Linked DNA regions of Homo sapiens. The protein of the gene in region 1 purifies or fractionates together with the protein of each later gene. This does not show direct contact. Each region holds a gene or a part of one and is shown on either strand. Other genes may lie near its edges. The genes, in order: OR13J1 and SLC41A3.

Evidence for each region.
Region 2: the proteins of OR13J1 (region 1) and SLC41A3 purify together in Homo sapiens (affinity purification with mass spectrometry; one large-scale study listed by BioGRID and IntAct). This does not show direct contact.

What each region holds. Positions count from the first base shown.
Region 1 is NC_000009.12:35,868,746-35,871,891, forward strand, and holds OR13J1 (olfactory receptor 13J1), read right to left. Parts: upstream 1,657-3,146; coding exon 718-1,656; downstream 1-717. UniProt on the Homo sapiens protein: Odorant receptor.
Region 2 is NC_000003.12:126,010,814-126,014,633, reverse strand, and holds part of SLC41A3 (solute carrier family 41 member 3), read left to right. Parts: intron 1-1,884; coding exon 1,885-2,019; intron 2,020-3,820. UniProt on the Homo sapiens protein: Na(+)/Mg(2+) ion exchanger that acts as a predominant Mg(2+) efflux system at the mitochondrial inner membrane.

The DNA.
Region 1 (3,146 bases):
GACCTTGGGAGAGAGTAGAATCTGACACTCCCTGCTCTTGGAGTAATGCTGAAAACACAGAGGGGCACAGCAAGAGGAGCAAGGTGGGGTGGCTTCCTGGTGGAGGTGGCATTTGAGCTGGGCCTGAAGGGTCAGGCAGTCAGTCCTTTTACATATGGAGAAGTGTGCTGGGGATAGGGGAGGGGGTGCTGCCTCGTGGGGAGAAACAAGGAGAGCACAGAGCTGGGTGGTGCAGGGCATGTGGGGGCCACAACTGGCTGGTGTGTGTGGCTGTGAGGAGGGAGATGGGGTGGGAGGGGAGGAAGGCTGGGGAGCCAGTCAGGCAGGGCCAGCTTGTGAGGGCCTCAAATGCCCCACTGAAAAGCTTCCACTTTGTTCTGAGAACAGTGGGGAGCCACCTAGGGATTTCAGTGAGAAGAGTGATGCAATCACATGTGCATTTCAAAAAGATGCCCCATGAAGGAGAGATTGGAGGGAGGAACAGGACTGAAGTCTTGGGACCAGCCAGGAGGCTGGTGTGAAGGCCAGGGTGATGCTGAGAGCAGAGGGTGATTTGGGGGCTGTTCTGTGGCAGGATCAGCGGGACTTGGTGCTGCCTTGCTGGGATGAAGATACCAGACCTGTAGCCCCAGCCCTGCCATGTCTTCACTGGCATTGGCATACGATGGCCTCAGCTACTAACCTGAGACCTGCGTCTGTACAGAGCCCCGCCCTCCCTCACCTGGAGGCCCGACTCCTGCCCCACACCTTCCTGGCGGCCTCCTTCACCTCCTTGTTCCTCAGGCTGTAGATGGTGGGGTTCAGCATGGTCGTGACCATGGCATAGAGGACTGTGAAGACCTCATCAGAGATGTGGGCTTCCTTACTCTTGGGCTTCAAGTACATGAAGATGATGGTGCCGTAGAAAAGCAGCACTACAGCCAGGTGTGCCAAGCAGGTGGAGAAGGCTTTGCAGCACCTGGCGGCCGAGGGCACCCTCAGGATGGTGGCCAGGATGAGCAAGTAGGACAGGCAGATGAATGCCAGGGGTACAGGCAGCAGCAGGATGGAGCCCGCCAGCAGGAAGTCTTCGCTGACCGACGTGTTGCCGCATGCCAGCTTCAGCACTGCCAGGATCTTGCAGGTGAAGTGACTGACCACGTGGTGGCCACAGAAGGGCAGCCTCATGGAGATGACCATCTCAGTCACCGACTTGAGGAGGCAGAGGACCCAGGCAGCTCCCATCAGCAGCACGCAGAGCCGGTGGCTCATGAGCACGTGGTACCTGAGTGGCTGGCAGATGGCCAGGTAGCGGTCATAGGCCGTGATGGCCAGTAGCAGGCACTCCGTGGAGCCCGTGGACAGGCTCAGACACATCTGGATGGCACAGACAGCAAAGGAGATGGTCTTCCGGGATGACAGGAGGTGGACCAGCATCAGAGGCACAAAGGTGGGCGTGTAGCAGATGTCCAGGGTAGAGAGGTTGCCCAGGAAGAAGTACACGGGCGTGTGCAGGTGGATATCTAGCACGCTCACCGCCATGATGGCTGTGTTCCCCAGGAGGGTCACCAGGTACATGGCTGAGCACAGAGGGAAGAGCAGATGCTCCAGGGCTGGGTAGCCAGAAAATCCTTTCAGAAAGAACTCGGACACCTCTGTTCTGTTGAGCGGCTCCATGCTGCAGAGTTCTGAAGAGATGGTCCACAGCTGGGATGGAAGGAGAGAGGGTACAGGGTGCGGGGAAGCTCACAGAGCCCTTTCTGGGACGAGGTGGACTGTCAGGATCTTTTCCAGCACTGCCACACTCACTGTCTGTGACGTCGGGCAATCCCTTTATCCTCTCTAGGCCTCAGTTTATCCATGTGAAAAATGAGCATTGATTTAGATCAGCATTCCCTGAGAGAATGTTAATGAGAACATTAGTAAGCAATCTGAAAAATCAATTTGAGACAACATTGGATTAATAAAAAATAAAGCTCTTTACTGCAGGACTTCTCAGAGCGTTTACTACGCTAATGTGATCTATGACTCCTGCAAAGCAATGTAGAACATCTGTACCCCAAACTTATTTGATCATGGATCCCCTTTTACAGAAAACCCATTAACCTACTGCAGATAAGTGTTCTATGAGCATAGTCTGGGAAACAGTAGGCTAGATCAACAGTTCTCAAACTTTAACATGCACCAGAATCACCTGGAAAGTTTGTTAAAACAGATTGTTGGGCCCCAAACCCAGTTTCTGACTCGGTGCGTCTGGGCGATGCTTCTGCTGCTGATGTAGGTACCACACTTTGAGGAACTAGTGGGCTAGGTGGTCTCTGAGCAGGTGGAGATTCTCCTGGCTTTAAGGAAGCCTCTGAGCCATCGCATTTGCTATTCCTTCTGTCTGGAATGTCCTCGGCCTGCAGTGGTCTGACCTGTCTCTTCAGGCCTACTCTAGTATCCATGAACAAAGCATACACCGTGCTGTGTGTTGGAGGGCTGCTGACCTTGAAGCCTATCGCTGGGCATGTTCCCCTGTCCCCTGCCCAGGGCCTGTTTCATTAGCTACCCTGTGTGGATTGGACCTTCACAATCTGCCTTCCTGTGGGTTTCCCAGCTAAAATCTGATGGAGCTTTTGGCCCAGCTCCAAACCCCTATGTTCTGTGGGCCAGAGCGAGGGCTGCTTTGACTTCATGAACTCCTAGGGTATTAGCATGGAACATGACCAGAGGCCAACTTGTTGGATCTCCCATTGTATAGATGGGGATGCTGAGGTCACACAACAGGTCTCTGGTGAGGTGAAGCTAGAATCCAGCCCTCCCAACAGTGTGACCCCTATACCATGCTCAGAGCAGGTGTATGCTTCTATTAGGTTTCAAACAATGCTTGTTCTTTTACCATTCTAGATGGATATCAGTGCCCCAGGTGCTGCCACAATCCTCTCACCAGCAAAAGAGCATGAGTCACCTCTCCTTAGTGTTCCAGGGTATCTGGCACGGTGTCATTAATCCCATGGGACACGATGCCAAATCCTGGGCCTGGGTGGAGCACAGTTCCTCTCAGTGCCTTCCTTGCAGGAGACCATTTCCGTCTTTTATTCCACCCTCACTTACTCATCCCAGAACCTAGAAGTAACTGAGGACCTGCTACATGTCAGGTGGTGCCAGATGTGAGGGAGCACTGA
Region 2 (3,820 bases), on another chromosome or scaffold:
AGTGGGCCACCCAGCGTGTCCTCACCCCAACAGTGCCAAAGTGCCTTCACATTGTGCATGAGAACAGCAACAGAGGGCTTATTACGTTGGAGTGATTTTTTGGGATGAGTCACCAACTCGGATGCCTTCAGTGGCCAAACAATCTGCATGAATTATGCAGCTAGACAGTGAGAAATGGCAGGGGTAAGCTGCAGAATGCATTTCTCATATGAACAGTGTGGTGCCTGTCCAGCTCCAGCCAGTAGTTGCCTCGGGAGAGTGTAGGTCCAGACTTGCCAGTGCTGACTTGGGAAGAGAAGCTGGGAATCTGTATTAAGGGCCTAATTTGTAAACAGTACCAATTAATTTGAGGTTTTTTTTTCCTTTTTCTTTTTAAAATTATGTATGGGCCAAGCCGAATAGATCGCAGCAGTCCTCTGCCTGAAGACAATTGTTTGCATCCTCTAGAACAGCCTGTGTGGTTGGCCTCTGCCTGAGAGGTCACTGGTGCACACCTGGCCCAGCTAGGGAGAGTTCTCCATGGCACTGAGCAAGTAGGATAGGGGAATCCCCACCTTCCATCAGCCCGCCCCCGCATCTGCCCCCACAGAAGGAATGCTCAGCATGGCCTTTGTCAGCTGGACCATCTGGCCCGGGCAGAGCTTGAAACCTTTTTCATACCCTGTGGGATCCCGGAGTCTCAGCAGGAAGCCCTGGTGTTCCCAGAGACCGCATGTGCTCATGGTTTTCTGGGCCTCATGACTCTGCCTCTAGGGTTCTGTGTTCTATGCCCTGTCAGTCTACACATGACCCCGCTCGTCCTGTTTCCCCTAAAGCCACTTGCTCTGGGCACACACCCAAAGCATCTATGAATGTGGGAGTTTGCACTGACAACTGAGCTCCGAGAGAGGGGCTCACCTAGCACCACAAATTGAAATCATGCAGCAGACAACGTCTTTTCTTCAACGCTCTCAGACCACACAGCCATGAGAGGTGTCCCAGGCATGTCTCCTGCCGCATGCTTGCTTTGCCACCTGCCTGTGATCATCTCTGTCCTCCCCTCACCTTCCCTCTCATTCTTTTTTTTTTTTTGAGACAGAGTCTTACTCTGTCACCCAGGCTGGAGTGCAGTGGCGTGATCTTGGTTCAGTGCAATCTCTGACTCCTGGGTTCAAGTGATTCTCCTGCCTCAGCCTCCTGAGTAGCTGGGATTACAGGTGTGCACCACCATGCCCAGCTAATTTTTTTTGTATTTTTAGTAGAGACAGAGTTTCACCATGTTGGTCAGGCTGGTCTCGAACTCCAGACCTCAAATGATCCACCCACCTCAGCCTCCAAAAGTGCTAGGATTACAGGCATGAGCCACCATGCCTGGCCCCCTCTCATTCTTATCCACTGTCTTCATTCCTCCTCTCTCCTTCCCACCTTGAGTGAAAAAAAAAAAATCACTTTCATTTTCTCAGATATTCCAGGCTGTAGTCTGTTTCCTGTCAATGCCTGTGGCCTTGAGGTCTGACTTATCCAGACTGCCTTATCACACTATTCTCAGACCTTTCTATCCACTCTCCCCTCATCCTTACTTTGTCCCTGGATCCCCTCCCTCCCATCCTCGCTCCAGCCAACAAATACTTATTGAGAACCTACTTTACAGCCGCACTCCCCTCACCTTAAGAGATGCCAGCAGTCAAGGTGATGCAGTTACTCCCTGGATACCTCACTCACAAGCTCTGGGCCACCCTGACTTGCTGCCAAACAAGATCTGTGGTCAAGTGGGAGGAAAGGAAAAGATAATGAAATACTGAATTAACCAAAGAAGACTTCCTGGAGGAAGGGAACTTAAAATAAGGGATACAACTTAGAGACTGGCGTAAAGAAAGGGAAAACAGATTCCTTTTCTCCTCGTAGGTGTTGGTGGCAATCTGGTGGCCATTCAGACCAGCCGAATCTCAACCTACCTGCACATGTGGAGTGCACCTGGCGTCCTGCCCCTCCAGATGAAGAAATTCTGGCCCAACCCGTGTTCTACTTTCTGCACGTCAGGTGGGTGTCATGTCTTTCAGAGGCCATGATAGCCATTTCTTTAAACAAGAAAACATCGGTGTCATTGGAATCTGGTGTTTGTAGCAATGGATGCCTGAAGCCAGGGCTGATCTCGGCACACATCACCTTCAGGGCCCCAGAAATGAGACTCCCCGGCCCTGCCTTTCCTTCATTCCTTCATTCAATTATTTATTGAATGTCCACTGGGCACTAGGTGTTAGGTTAGTGGTGAAACAGGGAGAGCTGATTTCTTGCCCTTGAAGTACACAGTATAGAAGGGCAGATAAACACAAGTGGGCTCGTAATTAAAAATTATGTTGGGTACCGAGCAGCAAAAGTGCAGAGTGCAGTGAAAAAGAATTAGAGGAAATACACTTGGGATAAGGAAGCTCCTCCCTGAGGACAAGTGGGTGTTGTTGGGAGGAGGAGGGCAAGAGAAGAAGGGGCTTTCAGGGCAGTGGGTGCAGTCTAGCAAAGGCCCAGAGGCAGGAAGGAGTGTGGCAAGTCTGAAGAACTGAAAGGCCAATGTGGCCTGAGCTGAATGGACAGGAGGGGATGAAGGAGGCTGAGGCCAGAGAGGCCGGAAGGAGGTGATCCGACAGAGCCTTGGAGTTGAGGAAGGAACCTGGATTCTACTCAGAACCACTGGAAGCTTTTGGAGATGTTGTGTCTTTTTGTTGGCTTTGAAAAATCAGATCTTCTTTCCTGTTACATTGTTTTGGATTTCCTTTCTAAGAACTACCTTTAGCCTTCTTTTGGGTTGGCTGTTGGCACATTTCTGAAGGATATTTTCACTGGTTGTAAAATTCGGTGTCAATAGTTGTTTTCAAACACTTGAAAAATGTGCCACTTCCTTCTGATTCCATGACTTATGATGAGAAATCTGCCATTTCAATTTATTTTGCTGTATAGGTATGGTGCCATTTCTCTCTTGCATATTTCAAGACCTTGTCTTTAGTTTCTAGGAGTTGGATTATGATATGTATTGGTATGGACTTTTTGGGGTTTATCCTATTTGGGGTTTGTTAGGCTCCTTGAACACATGGATTTATATCTTTTGTCAAATCGGAAAATTTAAGCCATCACTTTTTCAGCTGCACTCTCCTTCTTTTTGATATTCTAATGACATGAATGTTAGATCCTCTGTTACAGCCCCACAAGTCCCTGAGACTCTGTTTGGTTTTTGCAAAGTCTATTACTCTCCTTGTTTAGATTGGCTCATTTCTATCACTTTTTTCTCCAAGTTGACTGATCTTTTTTCCCCTGCCCTCTCCATTCTGCTATTGAGCCTATTCACTGAGTTGTCTGGGACTTTTGGGGGTATTGTATGTGTTTAGTTTTAACATTTCCATTTGGTTCTTCTTTCTTTCTATCTTCTTTTTCTTTTCTGAGACTTTCTATTTCTTTGCTTATACTTTCTATTTTTTTGTTTGTTTCAGGTGGGTTTGTGATTGCATGATGAAGGATTGTTGTAGTGGCTTCATTAGAACGGCTTTCAGGTGATGCTGACGTCTGTGTCGTCTCACTCTGCTGTCTGTTGGTTGTCTTTTCTCATCCAGGTTGAGATTTTTCTTGCTCTTGGTAAGATGAGTGATTTTCATTTGAATCCAGACATTTTGGGTATTATGGACAAGACTTTGGATCATGTTTGAATCTCTACTTAGCTGGCTTCCTTTGACACTGCACCACTGGGGAGAAGGGATGGACTGCTGCCCAGGTGGGGATGGAAGACTGGGTTCACCATTCAGCCTCTATTGCTATCCTGGGAGAAGAGGAGCACCTTGTTATTGCTGGGCACAGT